5 linked regions of the Homo sapiens genome follow. The protein of the gene in region 4 interacts with the protein of the main gene of each other region in a pairwise test. Each region holds a gene or a part of one and is shown on either strand. Other genes may lie near its edges.

What was found.
Region 1: the proteins of UNC93A (region 4) and GJA8 interact in binary tests that used the Homo sapiens proteins (3 or more experiments, as listed by UniProt).
Region 2: the proteins of UNC93A (region 4) and TIMMDC1 interact in binary tests that used the Homo sapiens proteins (3 or more experiments, as listed by UniProt).
Region 3: the proteins of UNC93A (region 4) and FXYD6-FXYD2 interact in a two-hybrid assay, tested with the Homo sapiens proteins (one large-scale study listed by BioGRID).
Region 5: the proteins of UNC93A (region 4) and PSCA interact in a two-hybrid assay, tested with the Homo sapiens proteins (one large-scale study listed by BioGRID).

What each region holds. Positions count from the first base shown.
Region 1 is NC_000001.11:147,899,654-147,906,451, reverse strand, and holds the start of GJA8 (gap junction alpha-8 protein), read right to left. Parts: upstream 3,658-6,798; 5' UTR 3,591-3,657; intron 1-3,590.
Region 2 is NC_000003.12:119,503,851-119,509,889, reverse strand, and holds part of TIMMDC1 (complex I assembly factor TIMMDC1, mitochondrial isoform 1 precursor), read right to left. Parts: intron 5,937-6,039; coding exon 5,869-5,936; intron 1-5,868.
Region 3 is NC_000011.10:117,870,120-117,876,158, forward strand, and holds part of FXYD6-FXYD2 (FXYD6-FXYD2 read-through protein isoform 1 precursor), read right to left. Parts: intron 1-6,039.
Region 4 is NC_000006.12:167,299,897-167,305,935, reverse strand, and holds part of UNC93A (protein unc-93 homolog A), read right to left. Parts: intron 2,018-6,039; coding exon 1,803-2,017; intron 22-1,802; coding exon 1-21.
Region 5 is NC_000008.11:142,678,214-142,684,882, forward strand, and holds PSCA (prostate stem cell antigen preproprotein), read left to right. Parts: upstream 1-2,281; 5' UTR 2,282-2,325; coding exon 2,326-2,350; intron 2,351-3,113; coding exon 3,114-3,221; intron 3,222-3,707; coding exon 3,708-3,919; 3' UTR 3,920-4,512; downstream 4,513-6,669. UniProt on the Homo sapiens protein: May be involved in the regulation of cell proliferation. Has a cell-proliferation inhibition activity in vitro. May act as a modulator of nicotinic acetylcholine receptors (nAChRs) activity.

The sequences.
Region 1 (6,798 bases), on a different chromosome or scaffold from region 4:
TGATAGTATATAATGCCTGTAGCACAGCAATGGCTAATGGAAATGGCATTGAGCTGACAAGGGGCTGGCTGCAACTGGGTCATTCATCCAGTGCAAACCTGTAACCTATAAAGAATGATGAGCAAAACTTCCACCTCAATGGAGAACAGTTGTTCCTGCAGCTTGAACATCTCTAGAGTTATAAGTTTACTCATCACTGCCCTCAGACCAGGGCAAGAGCCCATGTTAGAGGATCTTGCTCTGGGCTTCTTCTAGCCATGCCCCATGCTATAGGCCTAGGAACCTATGGGGCTAAAGGGATATGCCTATTGTTTTTTAATCACAGTGATATTTGTTAAACACAAAAGCCTATTTCCAACCTGTGATTTGGAGTCTGGCCAGACAGAACCTGGTGGCAGGATACTAATTGCAGGCATCTGCAATGTCCAGCCTGTGCTGTCAGGGCAGGCACAATAGCTGTTCGCTTCTTGTGGGAGAGCAGAGAGTGCTCCTCCTCTTGAGGCCTCATAAGCTCCCAATCAGGCAGGGCATCCTGCAGCAGCTTCTCTTCTCCTGAAAAAGTGACAGCAGCTGTGGCATCCCCAGTCATGGGTCTGGCATTGGGAAGAGTTCCTTGGAGAAATGGGTAATGGAGAGGGGGAAGGACCCAGCAGCTCGGAATCGGAACCAGCAACTCAATCCCAGCCACATGTATCTATTTTTAACTCTTCAGACTATAGTTAAGTCTAGTAATTGCCCTGGTAAGAGTGGTAGCCATTCCCATTGCCTTTTGGAAAATAGGTGGGAAACATCACAATCAGGTAAGCAGCCCAAGCATAAAGCTCACTGGTGGCAGAGCCAGGAAAAAGTTCATTTCTTATCAAATAGTTCATTCTAAAATTTATGTTAAAACAGCAATTTGAATAACTGTACTTCTATAAGATTTAGCTAATATCTTACTATCTTACTAATATCTTACTGAATCTTAACTATCTTGCTAATACTTACCCTCATTGATATATCAGTTCATTTTTGACAGTGTATTTCACTCACATACCCACATGAATGTGTGTGATGAGCACATGCTCTCAGTCCTGTATGTTAACCAATCTTGTTTTCCCCCCTTTAGTATCAAAAGGTTTTGGAGGGCAGGAACCATTTTGGCCTCATCTTTTGTGAACCATCACAACACAGAACAAAGCCCTTCACAGAGTGGGAGCTCCATAGACAGCAGTGCATGGTTCTAATAGTAATCCTTGTGAAATCTGAAATTCTCAATCCCCAAATTCCTGTAATATGAATACTAGAGACCAAGGAACTTCAGTCCTCTTGCTACAGCTAACAGCAGAAAAATTAAGAACTTGTAAAAAATGGTAAATAACAAAAAGGATAGTAAATTGATCCCCAACCAGCTGCTCTGAGACACAAAACTGCTTATTTTGTATGAGATCAAATATATAAACTGGAAGGCCAACAATTCTTGACAAGAGTGTCATGATACATGTTCATGACACAAGAAGTCGTTCCTGACCACTCATTAGTAATTTTGAAACCAAAGCCAAACAAGCCCATGTCTTTCTATACTCTAAGCCGCCATGCTAAGATTGTATTTTTTTTTAAATGTCTAGTTACAGTTTCTTGTGATAACTGAAGGAGAGAAACTGTAATTTAGGACACAATCTTTCCAACCCCATGATGTTGAAACAGGCCTACTGTGCTGTTAAGGAGAGACACTTTAGAGCTGCGAAGGGAAATGTATTGGTTTCCTGACTTCTAACAGTGAAAATTTAAAGGAAGTCAGATCAGAGAAGCAAAGCGTTCTGTGGGAGCAGGGAGAAATCTGAACCAAAGGAAGACTATTTCTCTTCTCTTTCTCAGAGATAATTCTCTGTTTTATTTTGCTTGTGAAAATTTAGTGAACAGACCTATTACAGATGGAAAATAAATGGATAGAGTTCAAGCCTCCAACCCCAGGGTGTCCATATATGGCCAGGAACATCCCACCAGAAAATGATGGCTAGAGGTAATGATTAAAATAACACCTTATGTTTGGGTATCCTTGATCTAAGTGATACATTTTCACGTATCTTATTTCAGTCCTCATAACAAGCTGTGAACTAGGCCAGTGGTTCTCAGACTTAGATTTCACAGACTAGTATAATAATAACAAACTAGTGTGACCAACATAAGGATACCAACTCCTTATTTTGCCAAACAAGGACATAAAAATAAGAGTTATTGGCTGGGCGTGGTGACTCATGCCTGTAATCCCAGCACTATGGGAGGCCGAGGTGGGAGGATCACTTGAGGTCAGGAGTTCAAGATCAGCCTGGCCAACAGGGTGAAACCCTATCTCTACTAAAAATACAAAAATTAGCTGGGCACGGTGGTGGGGCACCTGTAATCCCAGCTACTTGGGAGGCTGGGGCAGGAGAATTGCTTGAGCCCAGGAGGTGGAGGCTGCAGTGAGCTGAGATCACACCACTGCACTCCAGCCTGGGCAACACAGCGAGACTCTGTCTCAAAAAAAAAAAAAAAGAGTTATTAAATTACTAACTACAACTACAGTCTATTTTCATCATCATTTCATAAAAGGGGATTTTAACACCACAAAACTGGAGAGGACATAACTTCAGAATAAAAGACAAGCCTTTAAATTGAACACACTTAACTTGGTGAAACATTTACTACATTGTTAACTTTATCATTGTCACATTTTGGTCACAGGTTGTGGAAACCTTCATCTTGAGCTAGAACTGACAGATCCCCAGATGGATGTCTGAGAACCAGTGAACTTGGCATTATCAATCCCCATTACCAGACAAAAAGACAGGCTGGGAGGTGAAATGAGTCTCCAAGATGGGGGCTTAGCTAGTGAGGGCAGAGCTAGGCTGTGAGCCCTGGTCTTCTAGATCTAAGCCCATTACAGCATAGCCCTCCTCTGGTTTTGAAGAGGCAGAATAACACATATACATCCATTAATAAGTTATCCAAAGCGTTCAATGGCCACTTACCACTCTGGTTGGTAACCAGGTGGAAAGTGCCTCTTTTCTAGTTTCTAGAACAGCCACTAGCCAGCAGTTCTCATAGATAGACAACAGAACCTGCTCCTAGGAGGAATTTTATGGTCCTTAGCCAGATCCCTTCCTGTGCTCCATTAAATGCTCCAACATGGAAAATGCTGAGCACGAAGCCTCCGCTACCCCCACAGCATTCAGTAATTATGACTATTATTTCTATTGTAGAATTTGAGTGAAAAGGGCACAAAACTTTTTCATAAATATCAAATACTTGGTTTAGGTCCCTGTGGATTCCTGTAGACATGAAAAGAGCTTAAGAAGTCAAATTGTAGTTTGAGTTTGGACATCTCTGTTTCCCCATCCTGCTGATTATTCCAGCATTCCTCTCCCTTCCAAACCTCTGCCAGTTCTTAGGTCAACTTGAAGAGGGTTTTCAGAGTTGGAGTGTAAGTCTAGCCATCCCAGCCCAAGACTGAATCTTATTGGCAACCTTTTTCCTTTTGGAGAAGCCTATATATGGCCCTTAGATTAGGCTGAGAAAGAACAATTGGGGGGAAGGTTACAAACTAATATCACCCAAGGAAAACTTGCCAATACAAGGAGTGTCCCACGGAGAAATATGTGCTCTTTCTCTCTTGGCGCTCAGCAGCAAAATGGCAACTTTCGTCTCTTTCCTTTGCTGCCTAAAAGCCCACCTCCCACTTCTCTACCCCGCCCCTACTGTGCTGCACGACTGAGCAGATATGACTGGATTGGCCCTGATGGGTAGGTTTTACTGTCCAGCAATATTTTAAGCTCCCAGCCAGACAGCTTTTATGAAGGGAGGGATGTTTGGGAAACAATGGGAGTGAGAGAATGGGAGAGCTGTGTTGGGCACTGAGGGGAGGAGGATGGGGAAAGCTGATGTGTGAAAGCTTAGCTGGGGCTTCTGTGCCTCCCAAAGTTTCTTTTAGCAGCAGACTGGGCCTGTACATCAGTAAACCTTTGGCGTCTCTCCAGAGCGCATGAGCCTAGGGGCATTTTCCCAAGGCCTTATCATCAGCTGGGAGAATCTTAATGATGTAGGGACAGTAAGTGGTCAGTTGTGTGAATCCCTCTGCCCTGAGTCACACCAAGAGTGGTTGGTCCTTTCCAAAGGACCATATTTCATTTTTTATTGGTGGTTTGCTCTTGTCTCTCAAAGCCTTCAGCAGAATTGTGGATATTAGAGGCTGGGAAGTGTAGTGGCGGAAGGAAGGATGGGGAGCATGTTGCTAATAGATACAAAAGCACAGCTAGATAGGGGGAATGGGTTCTGGTGGTCTGCAGTGCTGTAGGGTGAATATGGTTAACATTAATTAATTAATTATTTTAATTTTTATATTTTTGTGTGTGTGTGAGACAGAGTCTCGCTCTGCCACCCAGGCTGGAGTGCAATGTCACGATCTTAGCTCACTGCAACCTCTGCCTCTCAGGTTCAAGTTATTCTCCTGCCTCAGCCTCCTGAGTAGCTGGGATAACAGACACCCACAACCACGCCCAGCTAATTTTTTTTTTTCTATTTTTAGTAGAGACGGGGTTTCACCATGTTGGCCAGGCTGGCCTCAGACTCCTGACCTCAGGCGATCTGCCCGCCTTGGCCTCCCCAAATGCTGGGATTACAAGCATGAGCGACCATGCCTGGCCGTTAACTATTTTATTGTATAGTCTCAAAAAGCTAGAGGAGAGGATTTTGATTGTTCCCAACAGAAAGAAATGATAAATGTTTGAGATGCTGAATATGCTAATTATCCTGATTTGATCATTACACATTGTATACATGTATTGAAATATCACTGTGTATCACAAATACGTACAATTATTATGTGTCAACTAAACATAAAAGGAAAGAGCTTTCTAAAAAGATCAAAACAATAAAAAAGAAACACAAACAAACCTTCAGCAGGGTGGTCTCCCTCTTTGAAAGGAGCCTTAACACTCCAAAGAATTCTGGTGCCATTTGTCAAAGTAATAGCCTTTCTCACCACGTTTCACTTATAATTACATATACTTTTGAGTAGCGGAAGTTCAATCAATGTCAGCTAACATTTTTAGACTTTAGTGCCTTCATCTGTTAAATGGGGATATGATGGTTTTGCTCACCAGGAGGCTCTTGGATTAAATTCTAATGTGGCTTAATGAGGAATGATGCTTGGAGGGCATGGACATATGCTCTCTGAGGCCCACTCCCGTCCCATCATCTGGGACTGACTATTGGTAGTATAAAAAATGGTTATTTTGACTACATTTCCAAACCAAAAATAGGGGCATTTTATCCTACAAGTTTATTCGTGAAAACAATGGAGCAAAAATAGTTGAAACTTAGATTGTTTTATGAAATCTGCAATGTATGATTACTAAATTGAAGACAACTTGGAGGGCAAACTAGACAAAAAAAATCTAAGCACTGGCTTCACCACCCCACCCCCCCTTCCTGTCCTTTCTGGTGTCATGGACATATTGCATTTTGATGGGGGCAGTTTGAAGGAGGATGGTACCAATGTTGTGTGAGTCCCCAATTCCATTTTAAATAAAATGGTCACTAGCCCAAAACCTTGTTTACTTTAGATGTCTGATTTCTTTTGAACTCCCAAGTTTGAGGGCCCACACTGACTGGGACAATGCCCTATAGCAAATCCTTCAGTTAAAAATAGATGGTCAAGGCTGATCCCTGCAATATCAATAAGGTAAGAAGTCAGAGGATGAGGGGAAAAAATCCAATCATTCTTTCTTTGGGAATATTCAGTACATGCTGATTCCTGAAGCTTGCGCTCTCCCTGATATAGTCCTATGAAGAGAAAAGAATCTACAAAGCTTCTCTTTAAAATGAAGTTCTCCCTATCCAAGGCTTCCCAGTCCAACTTGGCTAATGTAGTGGGTGGTGTCATCGCTCATCATCATTTTGTGAGAGATGGTAGTAGAGGATGCATTTGAATCCAGAAAAACGGGGCTGTCAACAAGGCTCTGAACCAGTTATAGTCTCTCGGATTTAGACAAATCTAGCTTTTCAATTTAGCACTTTCTTTGTTTTCTTACGCTGTTAACAAAGAAGATACTCCTCTACTCGTAGTACCCAATTGATTAAGTTATCTTTGTTATTGGTTCTTCTGTTTGTAGCTGGGAAGTCCTTGAAAATATAAACACTCAGTCGTGTATATCTTGGGGAAAGTTTTGAAAGAGATCGGGAAAGAGGCTCACCTTAGCTACCATTGAGAGATGACTTGTCTATTCCTACCAAGAATCACTTTCTCAGGTCTTTCAGAGGGATGTCTTCCCAGGGTGTCTGTATTGCATTATTTGAGATAAATAAGTAAATGTCTAGAATAGGAGACATAACCACATTCAAATGTAAGTTCCAATTTTATATTCTGTAATCTTATAGATTATTAGATTATTGACATTTTGGATAATCTAATGGTGGCATTCTCCTACCAGGGTTCGTTTTTCCTTTCTTTCTTTCTTTCTTTCTTTCTTTCTTTCTTTCTTTCTTTCTTTCTTTCTTTCTTTCTCTTTCTTTCTTTCTTTCTTTCTCTTTCTTTCTCTCTCTCTTCCTTTCTTTCTTTCCTTTCTTTCTCTCTCTCTCTTTTTCTTTCTTTTCTATTTTGAGACAAGGTCTTGCTTTGTCACCCAGGCTGGAGTGCAGTGGCCTGATATTGGCACACTGCAACCTCCACCTCTGGGCTCAAGCAATCCTCCCACCTCAGCCCCCCAAGTAGCTGGTACTACAGGCGCAGGCCACCACACCCAGCTAATTTTTGTATTTTTTGTAGAGATGGGGTTT
Region 2 (6,039 bases), on a different chromosome or scaffold from region 4:
ACATGGTGAAACCCTGTCTCTGCTAAAAATACAAAAATTAGCCGGGTATGGTGGCATATGCCTGTAGTCCCAGCTACTCAGGAGGCTGAGGCAGGAGAATCCCTTGAACCCGGAAGGTGGAGGTTGCAGCGAGCCGAGATCGCACCACTGCACTCCAGCCTGAGCGACAGAGCAAGATTCCGTCTCAAAAAAAAAAAAAAAAATTTAGTTGCATTGCTATATAATCATCACCAAAATCCAATTTTTAAATGATTCCATCATTACAAAAAGATCCCCCACGCCCATTTGTGGTTACTCCTGGTTCCCAATCTCACCTCAATCCACTAATGTACTTTCTAACTCTACAGATCTGCTTATTCTGGACATTTCATATGAATAGAATTATACAATATGAAGTCTTTTGTGTCTAGCTTTTTTCACTTAATGTTTTTGAGTTTTATTCATGTCGCAGCATGTATCAGTTTTTTACTGATGAAAATATTCAAGTGAATGGACATATCATATTTTATTTATCCATTCACTAGTTGATGAATTTATGGGTTCAGTTTGAGGCTGTCGAGAATAACACCACTATAAAAATTTATATATAAGTCTTTGCGTGGACATGTTTTCATTTATCTTGGGCAGATTCTAAGACATGGAATTGCTGAGTTGCACAGTAAATTATACTTAACTTTTTTTTTTGAGATGGAGTCTCACTCTGTAGCCCAGGCTGGAGTGCAGTGGCGCGATCTCAGCTCACTGCAAGCTCTGCCTCCCAGGTTCACGCCATTTTCCTGCCTCAGCCTCCCAAGTAGCCGGGATTACAGATGTGCACCACCATGCCCAGCTAATTTTCGTATTTTTAGTGGAGGCGAGGTTTCACCATGTTGGCCAGGCTGGTCTCAAACTCCCAACCTCAAGAGATCTGCCTGCCTCAGCCTCCCAAATCGCTGGGATTACAGGCATAAGCCACCACACCTGGCCTTCCAATGGTTTTCTTAATTCATTTGGATTTTCTACTTGCAAGATGTTGTGGTTACCCTCCAGAGACAATAAACTCCCCCACCCAAAATTTGAATCAGATATTGAAATGCCAAAGTACCAAGAGGTACTAAGAGGATACCAAAAGGTTTATTACACATATAATAAGGCTTTCCAGGGAGAGCAAGGCAAGATCCCAAGCATGTCCCAAAATGACTTGAGAACCTGAAGGCTGACTGACTGGCTTGTGGTTTTAGAAGGTGGGGCTAGAGCAAGAGCTCCCTCATGTAGGCCTGAGCTTGCATGGTTGAAACTTCCTGCTGGTGTCAACCAAGGTAGCACTTGGGCTTTCTTATCAGCTTGTCAAGATGTGGGGCAAAAAGGAAAGGGAGACTTCCAGTTTCTGGTATGGCATGTGAGAAGTTTAGAGTTTATCACTTATTCCTAACAACAAGTAAAAAGCTAAACAAATGGAAAAACTGACAACTCTTCTTAGATCCACCAAAGAAGTGAGATCATGGGTAAACTGCTGCCCTCAAAATAGGAGAGACAGACAGATAAATACAGAGAATCACACCTTATTAGAGCAGAAACCCACGAGCAGAAGCCTCCATGGAAACCAGTACCAGAGTAGGAAACCTTGACTATAAATGATAAATTGCTGGAAGTTCAGTGTAGAAAAGTCTAAGACCTAAAAACTGTAGGGGAGCCAATCATAGAGGGTCCCCACACTCCAGGAGCTCTACCAAGTTCTCCCAGTAAAGATCTGAGAAAAATCCCCTCAGGCTTCTGGCAAGGGGGAAGAAAAGTAACCATTTTGAAATATGCCAGAACATTCCGTTATTCTCACTAAGGCCTGCCCTCAAGATAAATGGTTTTGCACAGCCCAAACTATTGGGGTTTTGTCAGAGATTAACCAGCCTGGGGAATATCCAAATGCAACTGCTCTAGCCTCCCATGTGGGAGAAAGGAAATACCCATTCCAACCCACTGTAGTATCCTGTCCCACCAAAGGAGAGGAAAAAAACTGAAAAGCACTTGTGAAGTTAACAGTTCAGAAGCACAGGCTCACTAAAAGACTAAGAACCTAATCATAGGACTGCAAAACACTTTCCCTCTCCCACATCTTAATACCAAATTACTAAAGACCTATTTACCATAATTCCTTTTTTACCCAGGTACATCATGTCCAGCTATCAAGAAAAAAAATTACAAGGCATCCTAAAAGGCAAAAGCAGTTTGAAGAGACCAAGTAAAACTAAGAGAGTAAGCACCAAAACCAGACTCAGATATGGTGGGGATACTGGACTTACCATATGAAGAGATTAAAGCAACTATGACTAATACACTAAGGGCTCTAATGGATAAAGTAGATAGCATGCAAGAATAGATGGGCAATATAAGCAGAGAGATGGAAATTCGAAGAGAGAATCAAAAAGAAATGCTAGCGATAAAACAAATTTAAAAACCCACTGTAACAGAACTGAAGAATAGTAGACTGGACACAGCTGAGGAAAGAATCCCTGAGCTTGAAGACATTATCAACAGACACTTCCCAAACCGAAAGACAAAGAGAAAAAAGATGGGAACCTCCTCCACCAAAAACAAACAAACAAACAAACACAGAATAAAATATCCAAGAACTGTGAAACAATTACAAAAGGTATAAGTGTACTAGAACACCAGAAGGAGAAGAGAAAGCTAAAGAAATCTTTGAAACAATCACTGAGAATTTATCCTAAATTAAGTCAGACAACAAACCACAGATCCAGAAAGTTCAGAAAACACCAAGCACAGTAAATGTTCCTCAAAATTACACCTGGGCATATCATTTTCAAACTGCAGAAAATCAAAGATAAAGAAAAAAACAGTGAAGTATGTGAACACAAGGGAAAGACAGCTAAATAGAACTAAACATGGCTAGGGAGAAAATGGCTAGGGAGAACTCTCTAGGGAAGCTGAGGCTGACAAATGATCTGGACTTTGAAAGGTAAGGTTAAGTAGGAGCCGAACAAAATTAATTGTGGTAGTGGGAAAGTGCATTCAAGAAGAGGGACTGATTCACAAAAGGAAAGAACATGTTGGGAAATCCGAGGAGATTGTAAAGTGAAAGCAAAAGAGTGGCGCATGGAAGCCAGATCAAGAATTGACATTAAAGTGACAGGAAACTATAGAAGAATTTCAAACAGAAAAGTGGCAAAATCATATTCATATTTCAAAAATGTAACTAGGTTACAGGTAGAGCACATCAAGATTAGAAACAGGGACGATAAGATAGTAGCAGTGGGAAAAAAGAAGTGAAAGAATCCATATATATTTAATGAGTATAATTAATAGGACAAGAAGTGGAAAGAGAAAAAAGAGCAGAACCATATCATTCCTTGGTTTCTAGTTTTTTTTTTTTTTTTGAGACAGGGTCTCGCTCTGTCGCCCAGGCTGGAATGAGGTGGCATGATCACACCTCACTGTAGCCTCGACCTCCTGGGCTCATGCCATCCTCCCACCTCAGCCTCCTGAGTAGCTGAGCCTACAGGCATGAATCACCATGCCCAGATAACTTTTTGCACACACACGGTCTTGCCATGTTTGTTGCCCAGGCTGTTCTCAAACTCCTATACTCAAGCGATCTGCCCACCTTGGCCTCCCAAAGTGCTGGTTACAGGCGTGAGCCACTGTGCCTGGCCTGGTTTTCACATTTAACAATTGACAGAGAACGTAACAGCAGGAGCAAGTAAGGAAGTAAAAGTGGGTAGACAAGACCCATGTAAAAATGCTTGCAAATTTAAAAATGAAACAATCTGGCTGCTCTAACGCTATTAATGCCTATTTCTAGTTTTGTATTTTAAAAAGTTTTCATTAAAATGTTGTTTGAGGATCAGGAAAAACAACTAAGATACTAGGCTTAATACTTGGGTGATGAAAGAATCTGTATAGCAAATCTCCATGACACGCGTTTACCTAAGTAACAAACTTACACATCCTGTACATGTACCCCTGAAGTTAAAAGTTAAAAAAAAAAGTTCAAATTGTGTGTTTTCCCATGTGTGTACACATATACACAGAGAAGAGGGAGAGTGCATGCAGTAGCAAGAAGATAAAGCAAGTTGTCTGACTTAATTTCGGATAAATTCTCAGCATGAATTGTTAACAATGGCTAAGTCTCTGTATGTGAAGGATAGAGACTGCCCTTTGTATTATTTTTATTTTGCAATCTTTTGTAAGCTTATTCCCAAAAAAACATTTAAAAACTGTTATGTTCAGGCCGGGCGTGGTAGCTTACGCCTGTAATCCCAGCACTCTGAGAGGCCGAGATGGGCGGATCACCTGAGGTCGGGAGTTCGAGACCAGCCTGACCAACATGGAGAAACCCCTTCTCTGCTAAAAATACAAAAAATTAGCTGGGAATGGTGGCGCATGCCTGTAATCCCAGCTACTAGGGAGGCTGAGGCAGGAGAGAATCCCTTGAACCTGGGAGGCGGAGGTTGTGGTGAGCTGAGATCGCGCCATTGTACTCCAGCCTGGGCAACAAGAGCAAAACTCCATCTCAAAAAAAAAAACAAAAACAAACTTATGTTCAGAATACATATGTGTGTTGTACATAAAAGAATGTACACAAGTTAGTGATTGAGTGTATATAGCAGTTAACTTACCTTTCTGAAACGAATGCTCATTTTAAAATTATTTTTTAAATCTGACAAGTAAAAATTGTACACATATGGTGTATAACATGTTTTGCAGTATGTATATATTGGGGAATGGCTAAATTAAGCTAATTAACCTACACGTTACTTCACATACTATTTTTTGTGGTGAGAACACTTAAAATCTACTTTTTTTTTTTTTTTTTGAGACAAGAGTTTCACTCTTGTTGCCCAGGTTGGAGTGCAATGGCGTGAACTCAGCTCACTGCAACCTCTGCCTCCTGGGTTCAAGTGATTCTCCTGCCTCAGCCTCCCAAGTAGCTGGGATTACAGGCACCTGCCACCACACCCAGCTAATTTTTGTATTTTTAGTAGAGACGGGGTTTCACCATGTTAGCCAGGCTGGTCTCAAATCACCTCTGATGATCCACCTGCCTTGGCCTCCCAAAGTGCTGGGATTACAGGTGTGAGCCACCGCTTGGCCAAAATCTACTTTTTAAAAGCAATTTTGAAGTATACAATACACTGTTAGTAACCATAGTTACCATGTTTTAAATAGATCTCTTGAACTTATTCCTCCTGTCTAAATGAAATTTTGTATCCTTTGACCAACATCTTTTCCAACCCCATATCCAGTCTCTGGTAATCACCATTGTACCTTCTATTTTTAATGCTCATTAAAAAGAAAATATACATATATATACTAGAGGCAGAGAGCTTTAAAATAAAATCCAAGTTCTTACCATAAAAAATCTAGTCCATTCCTATAGTCCTCACCAATCTCATCTCAAGCTACTCTTTCCCTCACTCACCACGTTATTATCCTGCTTTTAAGGAAATGTTTTGCCTTAGAGCCTTCCCCCTTGATGTTCCCTCTATTTAGGACACCCTTCCTTGCAAGTCTTGCTCCTTCCTATTCTTTGGTATCAGCTCAAATGTCACTTCCTCAGAAAGGCCTTCTTTGACTACCCTGTCCATATGAGATCCCATTGTTCCACCGAATTGTTACTTTCTATCACAACAACCTGTATTATCACATACATATTAGACATTAAAATTCAAAGAAAGCAAGGGCCTTGCTGTTTTGCCCATTGAGTATATCAAGGGTGAAGCACAACACTGTCCATAAATACATTTTGCATCAATGTTGATGAGATGTAATGGGAAGCCAACCAAAGAATTCAGTAGTTCTGATGTATAAGTCCTTACACATTTTCTAAACTGTATTTGAGAAGACTGAAAAATATAAACAAAAATGTCTTACCTCCTGCAATTACAAAATGGCTTAAGGCATCTTTATTTCGGTATACATTCAGACTAGTGTTCACTGTGCTGGTAAAAAGGGAGGAGAAGGAAAATATAAGATTTAAAGCATATCCCATTTACCTTCTTGAGTGTTATTTTCACTGACTTAATAGATTTAGAAAAGCCTACT
Region 3 (6,039 bases), on a different chromosome or scaffold from region 4:
GCAGAAACACAGAACAGTACTGCGAGGCCAACTCAGGCACAGGCCAATGCCGCGCCTTGCCCAGAGGGAGTCAGAGTGGGATTCAGGCCTCCTGCCTGCCAGCACAGGGGCTGAGGCCCCTCTGGTTCCCCAGGAGATCTCGGTCTGGCTCCAGAGAGTCTGAATGGTGAGTGGTATTGCACAGAAGCCACAGGCTGGGGCCCCAGCAGGCTGCACGCCCCAGCAGGGCGTGATGGAGTCAGGCCAGGATGGGATCACCTCCCCCACACACCTGCTGACAAAGGCCCATTCAAGACAGGACAGACAGCAGTCCCAGCAGCAGACACAGAAACCCAGAGCAGCTGCCAGGGCCAGGAACCCAGAAGCCAGGCCCACGCCACCCTGCCCACAGCCAGGCCACAGCACCAGGCAGCCCCCTTTGCTCTCTCTGCCTACCTCTTTAGAAGGACAGCTCTGGCCTGCATGTTTCAGCCTACAGGGCACTTTGCACAATTTCATATTGTCTCCCTTTTAGGGGTAGAAGTGGCATGAAGATGAACCCTGACCCACGGGCCTGGATACCCAGAAATGTGCCCTGCCTTTAGAGGAGGGGGCTGTTGACCTGACTCTGTCTCTGTTTCAGGAAACACATTATCCCCTCCCTCCCCTCAATGCATCCTCATACCCACAGAGCCAAGGCCTACACCCCTTCCCATGTAGGGCTGTCACCAGTGTATGCCCCCATCACACCATAGCTCCCTGGGAGCACAGGCACACTCTGGCCATCTCTGGATCCCTGGCACTGAGCACAGCAGCTGCTCAATAAATGTTGATGTGTGAATGAAAGGACGCTTCAGCATCATTATCCCTTTACATCAAATCCATTCTAAGCTCAGAACAACCAAAGGATCTGTAGGGAATTTTTCAGGCATTTAAAACTTTCTCGGTATCCTCCTTCCTCCATTGCCTCATTTCTAATCTCTGTGTCTCTGTCAAATCCCAACTACCAAAATGCTGTGAGGAATCAGCCTCTCTCCTTTGACTTCAGCTTTTAAGCATCTCTCAGACCTCAGATGGGGTCAAATTCTTAGTTTCTAGACTCTACCAAAGCAAGTGGGAGACTGAGGTGACGCACGGTAATAAAGGGATGTGCATCTTGGGAACGCGTGGTGTGCACCGGCGTATGGGAGACAGCCGGGAAGGGCGACTAGGTGTCTACACCTCCTGGTGATGAGGACTCTTCCCCATGCGTGTCACAGCACACACGCTGTTCACTGGGCTTTCTCCACGTGTCTGACACTGTGCCAGGCACCGTGGGGAGAACAGACCTGCCATTGAGAGGCGGTGCAGTGGAGCGGGCGGGGTGGGAGGCGGGGCGTGTCCCTCTGCAGCTAAAATGCAGGTGTGTGCTCTCAAGGAAGAACTGACAGGACATTCACGGTATATGAGTATGTTTATTGGGAATTTTAATGCCTGTTTATTGGGAATATGGAATAATTACTTGAAAGAATAAACACTTGGGAGGAGCCACGAAGGATGATATAACAATAATAATGCCATTCTAATAATCCTAATAATGTGTCATTACTATCATTATTACAGCAGCTGATATCTCCTGAGTGTTTACTCCATGCTAGGCAGCATGCTGAGCCCTTTACACAGCTCGCCTCATACTGTCCTCACACTCATTTGACAGGTAAGGAAACTGAGGTTTAGCAAAGTGAAGAAATCCAGGAAGCATCAGAATGCAGTTTAGAATCCAAGTTTGTGTGTCTACAAAGACTGCCACCCTCTACTCGGCACATTCCAGCAACGGCTTGAGCTCAGGCAGAGGGTGAGACAGTACCAGGCTTCGGATGACCATCTGGAGAAGGTGCCTGCAGAGGTGGCTGCAGCCAGGTCACGCTGAGCCTGGAGTGCCTACACCATGTACCTGTGCTTATTAATAGGCACTGGTGAGCCTGGGGAGGTTTTTGAGCAGAGGAGTGGCAAACCTGGACCTGAGCTGTAACATCAGTGGGTAAAATGGAATGGGCTGAGAGGGTGGACGTTCACAGGCCATCACCATGGTCTGAGAGACTGCAGCTCTTCGGGAGAGGTGACAGGGCGTGTGAGAATGTGTGAGCCACTGCCTCCCTGTCGGGTGTGGGAGATTATATATGTGTGAGGAAGGGAACGTGTGTGAGAGTGTAAGTGCACCCGTGATTGCATGGAGGGGCTCTTCCTATGGAGGAAGAAAGTCGCAGGGCCTCCTGGTAGGATGTGGACATGAGGTGGACAGTAGGGGAGAGGAAGGAACAGGACAAGCCCATTGATCTACCTGAGCAGGAGGGCTCCAGCAAAGGAGAAACCTCAGAAGCCCACAGGGCCTGCCTGACATATGAGGGGAACATTTATTAAAAGGATGAACGAGGGAGTTTGAAACCTTAGCCTCTGGTCTCTCAGTGTGGGCCTGGCTTTGTCCTCCAGCTGCGTGGGGGTCACTGTTATTCTAACTACACCCCTTCATCCTTGGCCCTCTCTGCCCACATCAGATATTCTGAGCTGGGGCAGCCCCATTCCCATGGCCCCAGCCTGGTCCGTGGGGGCCCAGCCCCTTTCCCAGGCTGTGTGCTCCCTCCCACATCTTTGTAACAAACATGTTCCTGCGCAGCCTACAAGCTGGCTTCATCCCTTCCCAGGTCGGGACCTCTCCCTCCCCGGATTCTGGAGCAGAGATGATGCTGCCAAATTGGTTCCATGCTTTTGTTTCGGCCGGAGATGTCCTGCCTCTCATCAGGGACGGTGTCAGAGCACTGTGTTCCCGACCGGCCCCTCTCGTTGCAACTCTCCAGCTGGCCAGGGGTTCTCCCTGCAGAAGATTTCATGGACCTCCAAAATGACAGCCCAGTCCTCTCCAGTTGTCTCTTCCAGAGAACAACTCTTTAAAGAACCCCCCCCAACCGCCGCCCGCCTCCAGTGTGCAGCCTGGTAGAAAAGGCCAGGTAGACCACAGCATCCAGGAGGAGGTGGCTCCCTCAGCCCTAAAGAAAAAAACTTGGTTTCAGCTTCTAGGGCACCTTCTGCCACACTGGGTGAAAAGGAAACTTTCTCCAGGGTAACCAGAGCCCAGCCCCTTCCTGCTCAGCTCAGCTCAGCTGCAGCCCTGTATTATGAAATAATGAGTACTATTTGGTACCTGGAGAGAAAAGGGATCTCTTTCAAGATTGTATAATCCACACAAATTTAGAGGAAGACATGCCTTGGAAATCATGAGTCTAAACCCCACTATTGACAGATGCGGAAACAAAGGTCTAAAATCCGAAAGGCTTTCAGTTGCTGAAGAGCAGTCCAAGCCATTTCTGGATTTCACCAGAAGCCCAGTTTGCATCCAAAGGGATATTTGTGCAATGAACGCATTTGCCTTTCGGTAGCACGGAAGCTCAGGGGGAGAGCTGGGGCTAGAACCCGGCCTTTCCACAGCAGGCTCCCTGCCTCCTTGGGGCTGTGCCTTTCTTGACTGGTTTGCTTCCCTTAGGGTGCTCAGAAGGTGATTTGTTCGAAGGTGAATATTGGGGGGCTGCCTGGCACAGTCTGCCATCCAGATGGCGGCCGACTAAGTCCAACAAGGTTGGGAGGAAGAGAGGAGGTGCTCTTATTTAGGGGAGATTTCGGTGGGTGGACTCCCCCGAGGCTGTCGGGAAATTTCCAGGGTCTAGGAAACTGCCCTTTCTCCCCCATCTCCTTGCCACAGCTTCCAGCCTCGCCTTCCAAGAAAACATAGTGAAGCAGGCTCCTCGGTTGTACCCGCCCACTAAGGGACCCTCACTTTGGAAGGGCGTCCCAGTCACCAGCCGACCAAAGGCTCTCCCTCCATAGGTTTCCATCAACCCACCATCTCTGATGGTGACTGAGAAAAGAAAGCAAGGGTTGCAGGACAGGCAGTGTGAAGGCCAAAATCCTGGCCGAGGAGTTAGAAGGCCTCAGCGACTACTGGCCACGTGACTGCTGAGCCTCAGTTTCCCCCACTGTGTTCCCACTGGATGCTCCCTCAAGGCCTCTTCCGGCTCTGAGAAACCTAGGATTCCGATGTCAGGGATTGTGTCTCCCTCCTCACCTTCATGTCCCCAGCAATTAATACACAGTAGACACTTAAAACAGTTCTTTGAATGATTGAATGAAATCGGTCCTCAGGTCAGTCTGAAGATCCGATGGAAGCCAGGAAGGAAACGCTTCCCCCAGGCGCCTACCGTCTGTCAACCATAGAAGCCACACGTCTTGGGAGAACCCTGGCAAGCCTAGAGCCCTTTGCACACCCGCTTCCTCTCCTAGATGCACAGATCTGTTTGGAGGAGCCAGGGGGGAAGCAGGAAAACGTGCCAGGAAGAGAGGGTGGCCTGAACCCCAGGCAACGGCGGGTAGCCCTAACTTTCGCTTTCTTGACTCCTGTGGCCCCTCTCCTTCCCTCTTTCTGGTTTCCCTCCCCTTCCTGCCTCCCTGGCCTGGCCTCCTTGGCTTTCCTGGGACAGTAACCACTTTTCCTTCTCTCCTTTGTTAGGGCTCAGAGCCTCCGATGGTCCCAGAGCTGGCCTGATCCTCTGCTGGTGAGGATGACTCCCAGAGCCTCAGGCTTTCTCTGGGTCAGGGAAAAGAGCAGCGGCAGTGGAGAGATTGAAATTCTGGTCAGTGCCCAGCTTCTGGAGCCCAGCACCTGGGAATGGCTCTCGTTAACACCTGGAGCTCCGGACTGGGGCTTTGAGGAGGAGGGAAAAGGGCTGCGCCCACTCTTTATCCAACCTTCCCTTCCAGGTTTAGGGAAGGGGCTCCTCTTTTGAGGGAATCTGGCAGTGCCTTTCCCTCCACCTTCCTCTGCAGGGTTCCCAGGGAGATGTTAGGGTTTTCCTTCTGGGCTTCCTGAGCCTCCATCTCTTCCCCTCCACACCCCTAGGGAGGTGGCTGGATAAGGAAGGAAACTGCCCTCTCTCTCCCCTGCCTCAGCCCAGCCTGAGACTTATTTAGATGTACTGTGTGTGTGTGTGTGCATGCACAGTGCGCATGTAGGGTGTCAGTGTAGCATTGTAGCTGGTGTGTGGTGGTGCGGTATATATGCGGTGTGTTTGGTGTGTATGTGTGTATAGGTATGATGTATATGTATGTGTGGTGTGAGTGTGAGGGTGTGTTGATTGCGTAGTGTGGTATATGTCTGTATGTGTTTGTGGTGTTGGTGATGTGCAGTGTGTGTGAAGTGGGTGGTGTGAGTAAGGGGCCACTGCAATTGGGTGTAGGAGCCAGATATCTAGGTCTCCTAGCCAGGGATAACCAGTATCTAGGCAACCATACTGGGGGGAGGGGAGGAGATATGGAGGTGAGGAATGGGCAGGAGAAAGAGGGAGGCTGAGAAATGGAGGAGTTTCCATGGCAACGACCAGGCAAGTCACGTGCAAAAGGCTAAGTTGCGGACGTAGACATACACATCCATAATATGAGGGTGGCTGGATCCCCAAAGGGGGCTCCTTTCAGAGAGGGCCTGAGATGCCCACTGATCCATCTTCAAAGCTGGAAATCTTAGCCCAGCCAGACAGCACGAAGCCACAGAGACAAAGGAAGTAGTGGCAGAGAGCACACTGGTGGGGAGAAGCCTCCAGTAGCCACGGTCCCGCGAGCGTGCAGGCTTGCAGCAGGTGACGCGGCAGACCCATGTTTCCAGCGAGGCTGCTCCCAGCTCCCACCCTCGGGTGCCTCCTCTACCAGCCACCACTTGTAAGAGCCAGAAGCCAGCGCTGGGAGCTCCAGGCTGCACACCCAACTCTCCACGGAAGCCCGGGAGACACAATAGGGGAGGCTCTGCCAGGGCCAGCCCTGCTGGGGAAAGGGGGCAATGGCGGACCCCAGGGCCCCCCGGAAAGGAAACAGGATTGGATGGATAAGACAAGAAGGAGGGAAAAAATGATGCACTCTCATGAATCCCCGAGCGCTAGAATCCTTCTTTCCCTGCGCCCCCATCCTGTGCCCACTGCCCAGCCCCACCTTCCCCAAGCACCAAACCAGCAAGTTCCATTTTGTGTCGCTCATAAGTCCACA
Region 4 (6,039 bases):
CAGGGTGCAGGTGACATAGGACTGGGGAGAGGGGTGCAGAGCCACGTCATGGACGCTCCCAGGCCTCCCGTGCTCAAGCTAAAGCTGCAGTCGGGTGCTTAGAACATCTGCTCTGAGATGGCCAGCAGGCCAGTGTTGCCTACACCTTCCTCTAGGCTCTGTGGCTCCCATGCAGGAGAAAAGCTGGTGTTTGTAAGAAAATCCTGTTTGGGGAGAACTAAAAGGAGGCAGTTTGGACAACTGCAGACAAAATTCTTTCTCATGTATTTCTCACTATTTGCTGTGAAATGGGCACTATTTTATATGGAAGCCAATACACCCTGCCCTTGCTGGGGCCAATCATTACCTGTTAGGTCTAAAGAGAGTTAAAAAAAAAACAGAGAGAGAAAGAGAAAATGAAAAGATTGCCCTGACACCTCTTCCGGGGCCTCAGAGCAGCCCAGCAGCCGGCTGCACATGTGTCTCATGCCCACCGCACCACACTCCCATCACGGGCGACCTCAAGGGCGGGCACGCAGAACAGGGACTGAGACGAGAAGACCAGCCACAGCCACATCAGGGGGGACAAGGACAAGTCCAGTGGAGGAGCAGGAGGGGCTGTCCCCAAAACGCCAAGTAGACCTTTCTGTTATCCTGTTTCTACTCTTTTAAGCTCCTAAGATTCTCCATCAAGGCTGTCCTAAAAGTAGCACTGCCAGATAAAGTTGAGGACACCCACTATGGCCTGGGCATACTCCTGGAGAGACATTTGTGGTTTATCTGAAATTCAAATTCTACCTGCTGAGGTGCTTTTTATCTTGCTAAGTTGGCAGCCTTGCCTGGGAGGGATCTGGAGCAGAGAAGTTTCCTCCGGAAGGAGAGCCTCTGCCAGACACAGGCCCTTGCTGGTCCAGCTCTGGCCCCCAGCTCTCAACAGCCTCCAGGAGTGGCTTCTTTCTTTATGCACCCTGAGGTGGGGCACCGCCTCTCTCACCTTGAGGGGAGAAGGTGGCAGGAGTGGATGGAGCAGAAGCTTCAAGAGCCACATCGATTTTTAGATTGTGAAGCATGATTTGAAAACTAGAGGTGCCAGGCACAGTGGCTCATGCCTGTAATCCCAGCACTTTGGGAGGCCGAGGCAGGCAGATCACCTGAGGTTGGGAGTTTGAGACCAGCCTGACCAACATGGAGAAACCCTGTCTCTACTAAAAATACAAAATTACCCAGGCGTGGTGGCACACGCCTGTAATCCCAGCTACTTGGGAGGCTGAGGCAGGAGAATCGCTTGAACCTGGGAGGCAGAGGTTGCGGTGAGCTGAGATGGCGCCATTGCACTCCAGCCTGGGCAACAAGAGTGTTACTCCATCTCAAAAAAAGAAAAAAAGAAAGAAAAAAAAAAACTAGAGAGATAAGAAATTTTGGTGGTATTCATGGACTTAATGCTTTTCCTATATGTAAACTCTAAAGTAAGAGTGCAGGGTGAGGTCCAGGCAGGGGTAACACCGATGAGTGTCTGTGGGGTGAGTCAGCGGCAGCTGCCCATCCACTTGTTCCGGCTCCTTCCCCAGGAAGACACGGATCAAGCAAGACGTTCTCCCTTGAGACAAGAAGTGGAAGCTCCTGTGAGTTGGAAGTTACTTGGAGGTTGAGACCTTGAATCATAAACTCAGCTATGGTAGCACTGGGAGCATAGGACCCCGCTCCCTCCAGCCCCAGCCCTGGGCAGGTGGCCTGAGACACTCTGCGGTCCTGCAGGTACAGACACAGGCAAGGCAGTGATGCCACGCATGGCCTGAGCCACCGGCCCTCACTTTCGTTCATACCCTTGTGTATTCGCTGGAGAGGAATCCTTGCTGCAATCCACTGTACAGCGGCAGCAGAATTAAGAGGCACAGACGTTTATCTCTATATAGCTTGAAAGTCGACAGTAAAGTGGACCAGAAAGGTACTGATTTCTTCTCTCCTTCACTTTCCCGCTGAACATCTCGTATGGGTTGGAGGAACGCAGCTATCATCAGGACAGCCAGGACACCACTCCCTGAAAGGACATAGCAAAGGCTTCAGCTTTCATGGGGGCCCAGAGGCAGGGTGCCTGGCAAGGATTTGTTTCAGTCACTCATCCTCCTCTCGCGAGGGAGGGCTAATTCAGATCCAGATTTCAGGCGACATTAGACACAACATGCTTAAGGATCTCAGGTGTCTAGTTGCACTTGATCGTGCTGATTCTCTGATTACCTCAAGACTTACCGGCTTTCACATGAAACCTGCCACAATAGGTCAGTATTGTCCTCACCGGCATAAAATACAAAAAATTCCGGAGCGACCCCAGAAGTTCTGAGTGTCCTTAACCATTGGACTCTGCTTCTCATTCTAATCCCCAACGCAATTTCTAACAGGAGACAGCTTTTTATTGATTTTTTTTTTAGGATAATGATTCCCACAAGGTACCATTTGCTACACTTTTGTTTATTTCAAATAAACAATTTTGTGCAAAAGTCCTCCAATAAGAACTGGTTAAAGATATTAAGGGGTATCTGAACTACAACAGAATGTTGTGCATTTGAAGAAAATAAAAAAGAAGCTCTTTATACACGGATGGGAAAATCCCCCACCATAAATGGTAAAAAGAGAAAAAACAAGCAAGATGCAGACCTCTGTGTAGAGTGCGCTACCAATTGAATTTAGTAAGAAAGGACATAAAGATGTGCTTGTTTATATGTGCATTAAATATGTCTAGGAATAAAGCAGGCATGGACTTTCTATGGGTGCAGAACGGGGTCTGAGGACGGCAGTGAGAGGGAGACTCCCCACCGCACACCCTTTTACAGTGCAGTGCTTGCCCACCCAAAGGGGTTCATTCCAAGGCCCCAGCGGATGCCTGAAACCACGGGTGGTGTCAGACTCTACATGTACCACGGATTTTCACTCTGACAGCAGAGGTGGCTACTGAGAGACTATGGCCCGGGGAGCATCTATGGTGCGGACACGCTGGACAGAGGGAAGGGTCACAGCCTGGGCGGGGTGAGCAGGACGGCAAGAGATTCCATCACACTACTCAGAACAAGCGCAACTTAAACCTTATGAATTATTTATTTCTGGAATTTTCCACTTAAGGTTCTCAGACCGCAGCTAGCCTCAGGTCACTGAAGCCACACAAAATGAAATGGGGACAAGGGGGACTCCTGGATTTGCATTTTGAACTATATAAATGGGTTATCTATACAAAAAAATATTTTAACTATTCATTTCATCCATGAGGAAACATCCTGTACTTTCTCATAATTCCAAAATATGACTAAATCTCCATCTGCCCACCACTTTATTATTTGATCCACCTCAATTTCTGTCGATGGAGAACTGATGTTTATTTAGGCGTTTCTCACTTTACTAGAAGCCCTTTCGTCCCCTCATGATTGTAAGTGCCGTCTGTGATACCATTGCATCTCCACTGTTTTCCTCCCACCTGGCAGTGGTAATGATACACAGTGTTTGGGGCACCACAGATGACTCAAGAGTGGTGGCGATCCTTCCCTTCTCTCTGGGCCAGAATCTTTCAGAACGGTTCATTTCTACCTCCGAGAACTTAGACCCCTGCTCCTCTAAAGACGACGGGAATTATCCTATCTTACTGTGCCTGACCAACCTTATCTAGTGCTTTCTCTCTCAGCATCAGTGTCCTCGTGTGACCCATGCAGTGGACTTGCTGCAGCACTGTGCCCGGCAGCTGAGCGTTCCTGAAACTGGGAGGTTTGCAAAGCCAGCTCTCTTCCAAGCTGTGTGCAGAAACAGCAGAATCCTAGCACCTGTCTCAGAAAGCACCATTGGTAATGTGGTTCCACCTAGAAATGCAGATTTATTTCTAGGCTTTACTTTCCGTTATCTGGCTACTTTCCATCTTGGCTAAACATATTCCCCTTCCTATTTCATAACTCAAGATTCTCATGAAGTTTGTGAAATTTCGTATGAAAGCAGGACTCCTGCTGCCACAGGTGTTTCTTGGTCACCCTTGATTTTCCTCTGTGTTGTCCTGGCCACCATGTGGTCTGGCAGGTTGTCACGCCTGCACAGGAGGCCATAGGGTATTTACAATGATCAGGGCCCCCTTCCAAGCCGACCCCCTGAGCTGACTGTGTGTAGACCATGTGGAAAAGGCACATTTTTCCTCCACTCACTGAAGGCAGCGCCTTCTTCACAATCTCGTCTTGTGGGCCAGGACTTCAGTGTCAAGCAGCCCAATAGGACACAACCTACAATCTCCCCGAAAGCCTTGTGGGAAGGGGAGAGGCAGGTTATGAACACAGAAGCCACACCCCTTTGTTCAGAATTATGTATGTCCGGGTGTCATGTGACTCAGAGCCTTCTGTGGGGCATGAATTGGGGGATGCTGCACAGCTGTGTCCTAAATTCTAAAGAGAATGGCTCTTTGCAAGAAACTTGACTATGAATGCAATGCTCAGAAACCCAGGAAAGTTACCCAGGGAGAGGGTGTTCTTGTTCTTTTAGGTCCATTTTTCTCTCTTCCTATGTTTTTCTTTATGGAGACATGGTCTTGCTTTATAGAAAAGGACACACACAGGATCCTGCAGGACTGTTACAATCACAATAGTAAGACCACTTCTTCATTTACATGTGTGTGATCTCTGCTCTACATAACTTCTAGACTTGGACTCCCTTAGGCTGCGGGATTCCGTGAACCGAGATGGGGCTGTGGCCAGAGAGCACACTGGGGGTAACCCTGCAGGGGAGGTTCCACAGACAACAGCCACCTGCGGAGGACAGCTGGCAATGAAGGGCCTGGAAGCCACAGAGAAGCCTGTGCTGTTCCTCTAGAGCAGGGGCCAGCAAACTATGGCCTGCGGGCCAAAGCCTGCCCACTGCCTGCTTTTGAAAATAAAGTTTTATTGGCATGCAGGCATGCTCATTTGCTTACATGTTGTCTATGGCTTTTTCCCATTACAAAGACAATGTTGAACAATTGCAACAAGGACCATATGATCCTCAGAAAGATACTTACATGTAGGAATATTTGCTGTCAGCCCTTCACAGAGGAAGGCTGCAGCCCCCACTCCAAAATTCTGTTCTTTTATAGATAGGAGAAGTCTTTGTTGGTGGCTGCCTAACTGGAATTTGTGGAGCTGGAAGGAGACCTGATGGTCTTGACTCAGCTCAATGTCCCCGAGTCCCCCAGCCTCCTAGTTATGTAGAGGAGGTGGTGAGGGGAAGTGTTGGGGAAGCACAGGCCTGGCTGGTCCCTGGGACCATGTTGATGGGAACCTTGGGGCCTGCTGGGAAAACATGACCACAATTCCAAGTCAGCAGAGACTTGCAGACCAGAGAAAACCGTGGCTCCTCCTGACTCCCTGTCCACACCTTCCACTCACTTCTGAAACCCTCAGTCTGGGCCTTGCACACGAGCACCCTCCCCAGGTTGCTCGCCTGATGGGCATCAACAGCCTCTCACTGGCTAAGAGCCTCGTCCAGCCTCCCCCCTGAGCCTCCTAGGGGCCCTGCCACACTCAACACTCTCAAACCCCCTCCCCAGCTGATTCTACAACCCTGGTGTCCTCCAAGACCCTGGTTTGGTTTTCTGTCTCCTTCCAAGGCTCCAGTTGTCTGCCTGGCCCTCAGTGTTGCTGAACCAGGGGTCCAGCTATACTCCCTTCTCTGTAACAATTCCCTCTGCTTTTTCTCCCTAAGAGCCTCATCCCTGACATGATTCCAGTCACCATGTTGGAAGATGCCTCCACGTCCACACTTGCATTGGCCTCTGGCCTGAGCCCTGCACGGCGTCAGACTGCCCACTGGACACTATGCAAGAGTCCCACTGCGTCCTCAAGCCAGGTGTTCCCGGCCTGAGCTCATCTTCCTGTCAACCCCAGGGCTGTCTTCTCTTCCCCACACCATGTCCAACCCACACGGACCCTGCTGGCCTCTCTCTCAGCCCCTCCATCTCTGCCTCCCCGTACCTGCTCCCTCCTCTGGACTCAGCACTCCGTCCTCAGTGGGTCTCTGCCCGCTGTCTCTCTGCACCTCTAAGTCACGCTGGCATGGGGTCTGTCA
Region 5 (6,669 bases), on a different chromosome or scaffold from region 4:
AGCCTTTTCAGGGGCAAAATCGAGGAGAGGAGGTAACAATGAAGGCCGGACAACCATCAGCGGGGACGAGAGAGCGTCAGGGGAGAAGGGGCCGGTCTCCCTCCAGACACACACTCGGCAGCAGGCAGGGCCACGGACCACAGTGGACCTACCAGCTTCCGGCAGGAACAACAGCATACCCAAGAGGGTTGCCAGGCAGAGTTATCTAACTCAGGGTCCATGTACAAAGGCAGGGGTCAGGTTGAAGGAGACAGCAGCGGCCACAAGTCCCCCTCAAAGCCAGCCAGCAGCAGGAAGCCACCAGCCCCTCGGGCTTGCAGGGATGAGGGGGAGAGCACAGTGACCAGAGGCTGGCCAGAACCCGGGGGACAGGAGAAGCCTGGCTGACGGGACCTGGGCCTTCTCTAGAGGGCCATAGCCACTGCCACCACCACCCAGCCACTGGCAGGAGAGCCTGGGCCTGCTCTAGAGGGCCATAGCCACTGCCACCACCACCCAGCCACTGGCAGCAGAGCTTGGGCCTGCTCTAGAGGGTCCTAGCCACTGCTACCACCACCCAGCTGGCTGGCAGGAGAGCCTGGGCCTGCTCTAGAGGACCATAGCTACTGCCACCAACACTCAGCCGGCTGGCAGGAGAGCCTAGGCCTGTACTAGAGGACCATAGCTACTGCCACCAACACTTAGCCAGCTGGCATGAGAGCCTGGGCCTGCTCTAGAGGGCCATAGCCGCTGCCACCACCCACCGCCCAGCTGACTGGCATGAGAGCTTGGGCCTGCTCTAGAGGGCCATAGCCACTGCCACCACCGCCCAGCGGGCTGGGCCTGCTCTAGAGGGCCATAGCCACTGCCACCACCTCCCAGCTGACTGGCAGGAGAGCTGGCCTGAACTTGCCTCTTCCACTCTCTCATCTCCTGCCTGTGGGAGCTGGACCAGCCTCCCAGGACATGGAGCAGGACGGAGAGGGGATCTGGGGCAAACAGAGGCCATACAGCCCTGGGCCTAGCCGCTGCCTCCTGCTACTGCAGAGGCTGCTAAAAGCTGCACTTCCCCGACTCGTTTGCAGCTAAAGTTCCAAGCTGAGGGGGTCACTCAAGGTCCTGAGGGTAAAGCACCTAGCCCAGGGCTCAGCCCACACTGAATGCCCCATAAATGAAGGCCCGTCCAACAGGGTCTCCTCCCCAGGGAGGCTGTCCCCTGTGTCAACAAGAGCCAAACTCTGTAAAATATTTGAAGACATTTATTCTGAGCCAAATATGAGGGACCATGGCCTGTGACACAGCCCCCAGGAGACCCTGAGAACATGTGCCCAAGGTGGTCAGTGCACAGCTTGATGGTACCCATTTTAGGGAGACATGAGACATCAATCAAATATATTGAAGATATACATTGGTTTAGTCCAGAAAGGTGGGCAGCTGGAACTGGGGGCTTCCAGGTTATAGGTGGATTTAAACATCTTCTGGTTGGCAATCGCTTGCAAGAGTTATCAATAGAAAGGAATGTCTGGGTTATACGGGGTTGTGGAGACCAAGGCTTTATCATCAGATGAAGCCTCCAGGTAGCAGGCTTCCGAGACAATAGATGGTAAATGTTTCTCATCAGACTGAAGGCCTGTGTTGATGTTAACGCTGGCTGTTCCAGAGTTCTGAAGGGAGGAGGGATAATGAGGCTATCCAACCCTTTGCTGTCATGGCCTGAACCAGTTTTTCAGGTTAACTTCGGAAAGCCCTTGCCAAGAGGAGGGTTCCACTCAGATGGCTGGGGGGCCTTAGAATGTTACTTTTGGTTTATACCGGAACAGCCCCTGCCCCTGTCCTTTGCAGCACCTGCTAATGATCTGTCAGTGACGCTGTGACCAAGGCTCATCACCCTGCGGGCCGTGGGCCCCAGAGGGCGGCACAGCTTCTATAGGAGCACAGGGCCCAGGGAGGTGCCCTCATCCTTGGCTGGAAGGCCGAGGCCTGGAGGAGTCTGGAGAAAGGGTCTCCCTTGTCTGGCCTTGCACTGTGAGGTGGGGGAGGTGGGAGAGGCATAATCTGGGTCTTGAGGACGTTTCAGCCCTCAGCCCGGGGTGGCTGAGATATGGCCCTGGGTAGGCTCTGTCCTCCAGAGGTGGAAAGAAGGACAAAGGGAGAGGGAGGTGCAGGTCGCTCAGGGAGGAGACTCGGACCTGCCCAGCCCCGGGGCCCTCACTGGCTCCAGGAAACCCGCTGGTGTTGACTGTGGGCAGTCCAGCCTCTCCCCATTTGAGGCCATATAAAGTCACCTGAGGCCCTCTCCACCACAGCCCACCAGTGACCACGAAGGCTGTGCTGCTTGCCCTGTTGATGGCAGGCTTGGCCCTGCAGCCAGGTGAGGCCTTGGCTGGCCCCCAGCAGGGAAGGGAGCAGGGGTGAGCCGGGGAGGCCAGAGGGATACCTGCAGGGCACACGGAGAGGAGGGGAAGGAAGGAGGAAGGGAGAGGAAGGGGGTGAGGCTCTTGCCCTAGCCTCCGCTCCTCCAGGGAAGCTCTTGGCACGACCAGGCAGCGACCTGTTCCCTGCCGTCCCCTGTGACCGGGGCTTGCAGGGGCAGCACGGAGTCACTCTCCTTCACCACCGTGGGGCAGGGCCTGGCTCCTAGGGGGCAGGTAGACAGACTGACGGATGGATGGGCAGAGATGCTGATGAGGAGCTGGGAGACATGGGACAGGAAGCCTCAGGCTAAGAAGTGGTTTTTGGGGCACAAGGGGGAGGTGCTGGGGGTGTCCTGCGAGGACCCGGGGGTCTACATCCGGCCCAGTCCCAGCACTGCAGCTTCCAAGGGTCCCAGGGAGCTGCTCTGCTTGAGGTGGGACCCTCCCGACCCAGGGTCCCGGGTTCAGTCACCCCCACAGCCGCAGCTTCCTCTTCTGAAACACACGGTCACAAAAGCAGCCACCGAGGGACTAAACAGGGCAACATTTCGGAGGCACTGAGCAGGGGGCCGTGAAGATGGGGAGGAGACATTGAGGGTGACAAGAGGGCGCCGAGGACTTCCTCAGGCCACCGCCATGGAGGCCCACCTGCCTGGGAGCCCCCATTCCTGGGGAGTGCTATGGGGCAGCCTCTGAGGCCCCTCCCACTCCACCCCACAGGCACTGCCCTGCTGTGCTACTCCTGCAAAGCCCAGGTGAGCAACGAGGACTGCCTGCAGGTGGAGAACTGCACCCAGCTGGGGGAGCAGTGCTGGACCGCGCGCATCCGTGAGTGGGGGGACGACAGCCGCCAGGCCTAGGTCTCTGCCACTGAACTATTAATCTTTCTGGCCATCTGTCCGCATCTGTGTGCTGTTTTCCTTCCACCTGTCCCCGACCCGTCCCGCACCTGCACCCCCAACAATCACCCAGCATCTGTCCCTCCAGCCATCCTCCTCCATCTGCCACTCCTCCACTCATCTGTCCCTCCCCATCCTCCATCTTCCACTCCTCCACCCATCTGTCCCTCCCCATCCCTGAGCTCACTTACTCACTCACCCCATTTCTGACGCTCAGCGGGTGGTCCATCTGCCTCGGACATCTGGATAGGGCTGAGACCAGGGCCGAGACCAGGCCCTCGCACTGCTTGCAATCCTGAGGCCAGCCCAGGGGGACTCTAGAGCATTAGGCAGGGTGGGACAGGAGGAGGCCTGGGGCAGGTCAGGCAGGTGAGCACACAGGGCAGCCCCATCCCCGGATCCCGCTGCTCCCCAGGCGCAGTTGGCCTCCTGACCGTCATCAGCAAAGGCTGCAGCTTGAACTGCGTGGATGACTCACAGGACTACTACGTGGGCAAGAAGAACATCACGTGCTGTGACACCGACTTGTGCAACGCCAGCGGGGCCCATGCCCTGCAGCCGGCTGCTGCCATCCTTGCGCTGCTCCCTGCACTCGGCCTGCTGCTCTGGGGACCCGGCCAGCTCTAGGCTCTGGGGGGCCCCGCTGCAGCCCACACTGGGTGTGGTGCCCCAGGCCTCTGTGCCACTCCTCACACACCCGGCCCAGTGGGAGCCTGTCCTGGTTCCTGAGGCACATCCTAACGCAAGTCTGACCATGTATGTCTGCGCCCCTGTCCCCCACCCTGACCCTCCCATGGCCCTCTCCAGGACTCCCACCCGGCAGATCGGCTCTATTGACACAGATCCGCCTGCAGATGGCCCCTCCAACCCTCTCTGCTGCTGTTTCCATGGCCCAGCATTCTCCACCCTTAACCCTGTGCTCAGGCACCTCTTCCCCCAGGAAGCCTTCCCTGCCCACCCCATCTATGACTTGAGCCAGGTCTGGTCCGTGGTGTCCCCCGCACCCAGCAGGGGACAGGCACTCAGGAGGGCCCGGTAAAGGCTGAGATGAAGTGGACTGAGTAGAACTGGAGGACAGGAGTCGACGTGAGTTCCTGGGAGTCTCCAGAGATGGGGCCTGGAGGCCTGGAGGAAGGGGCCAGGCCTCACATTCGTGGGGCTCCCTGAATGGCAGCCTCAGCACAGCGTAGGCCCTTAATAAACACCTGTTGGATAAGCCAGAGAGACCCTCTGTCCTTGCACACCCCAGGCGGGCACCGGATCCAGGGCTGTGTCTGGACCAGGGCCCTGGTCACATGGGCTGCAGCCTCCGCCCTAACAGGAGCAAAGCTTGGCCCCTGAAAGGAGGACGTCCCTGCAGAGGGTGGGAGGGCAGTTCCCAGGACTTGCACTTGCTGTGCTGCCTGGAGCATGTGGCCAGACCTCTCTGAGCCTTGCGACTCATCTATGACCCCTCCTTGCTGGGAGGATGGACCCAGAAAGTTCACAGGAAGGAGAGCGTTCCGGGGGGAGGGACTGCTACCATTCAAGCTCCTACCCATCCCCTTGGCCTGATTTGAGCACCCCCATTTTTCAAAATTTGTTTTAGAGCTGCACACCCACCATACAGCATTCAAACACTACAGCAGGGTCCCCGGTGACAGGTGGCCTCCCCCAACCCTGAACCCCAGCGCCTTCCCTCTCTGGGGTGCCCATTACACCTCCAGAGGCTTCTTTCTGGGAGAATCTGTGCCCCGTGAGCATCCCCAGGCCCCTGAGTGGGAGGACACCATCCACACTTGCCTTCTGCGCTCAGGGGAAGCCTTTTGCACACAGCCTGCTTCCCGCCCTAGGGCTAGGGGTGCAGCCTGTGACCTGGGTGGGGACCTGCTCAGGGTGAGGCCTCCAAGGGTGTTAGGGGTGGGGCTCGGGGGGCGGTTTCAGAGAAGAGGAGACAGAGGCTCAGGAAAGGGAACGGGTCTGTTGCCCACATCCCATACCGAGCCAGGATTGGAACCCTGGCCTGGAGCTCTGAGGGTGGGTCATGGAGCAGACAGTGGGCAGAGCTGTGCTGGAAAGAGCCAGGCCTCCCGTCTGACATGTGACTTCACGGGGAGACCTCCCTCCTGAACACTGGGGGCCCAGGGTGGCATTGTCAGCAGGGTGCAGCTCCCCAGGCCAGCATCTGAGTGACCCTGGGCACTGGTCACACCCTCCCCGCCTCGCCTACACCCAGCCCAGCCTGCCCGGCTTCCATGGTGAGCTCTGGGCTTCCATGGTGAGCTCTGCCCAACACCTACCCACCCTCCCAGGCCCAAGGCACACTCAGACCTGCCTTGGCCCAGGGCCTGAGTCCAGAGTTGAGGGCTAGGCCATTGTTTTCTGGGAGGGCCCTGCAGACCTGGGAGCCCGCACAGAACTCTCCACCCCTCAGGGCTCAGGTGCAGGAACTGGGGCCTGAGGCTCAGGCAGGTGCTTCTGGCCACACTGTGTCTCCTGAAGCTGCCGGCCCGGGCTTGCTGACCTGCTCTGGGGAGCATCAAGGACGCTGAGTGAGGGAGGCTGGTGCCCTGCCTGGCTCCATCCACTTAGCACACAGTTATCTAACCCTTGGTATGGTATGTTCCACTGCTGTTTCAGTTGCTCCTGGTCACCCTGGTGATAAAAACTGGGAGAAAAAAAGGAAAGCAAGGAAAAAGGATCCAGAATGCTGAGATGGCCAGGGAGGTGGTCTGGAGGCCTGCAGTGCAGAGGCAGGTGCCTCAGTGATAAGAGCGGCTGTCCTCACTGAACAGGACTCAGCCCACTCCAGTGCCCACACAGCAGCCCCTACCCCCTGGTGGAAGGGGGTCCTTCTCCCTGGGGCTTAGGTTCAGAGACACAAGGCAGCGTGCTCCAGGGCTAGGGCCCATCCACATCGGGCTGGGGGTGTCCAGAACAGAGCAAGACAGGACCCTCACACCCTGTTCCCCAGAATTCCTCGCATTGGAATACCTTGGACCAGGTGAGGAGAAGAAGGGCAAGGATGCGGGAGGCCTCTCTGGACTCTCGATGCCAGGGCCAGCCTGAAACCTGTGGCCCCCTTTGACCTCCTGAGCTGTCCCTCAGGTCACGGGGCCTCTGAGCTAAGGGCCTGTGAGGATGCCCCGCCCTGCCCCTCCCTCACACCATGAGGATGGGGCAGGAACCTGCTCTGGCCACGTGGCACATGGGGGACAGAGGTCCTCCCTGTCCTGCTGCCTCCTCAAAGGACAGACGGCTGACCTCTCCAAGGGCAAGGACCAGCCAGGGAGGGCCACCTGCACCAACAGTGCAGGTCGCAGCCCTGGTGCACTCAGGCTCCAGAGGTTGCCTATTCACTCAGGGCCCCACGGCTCCATCTGGACTAGAACCTGCAC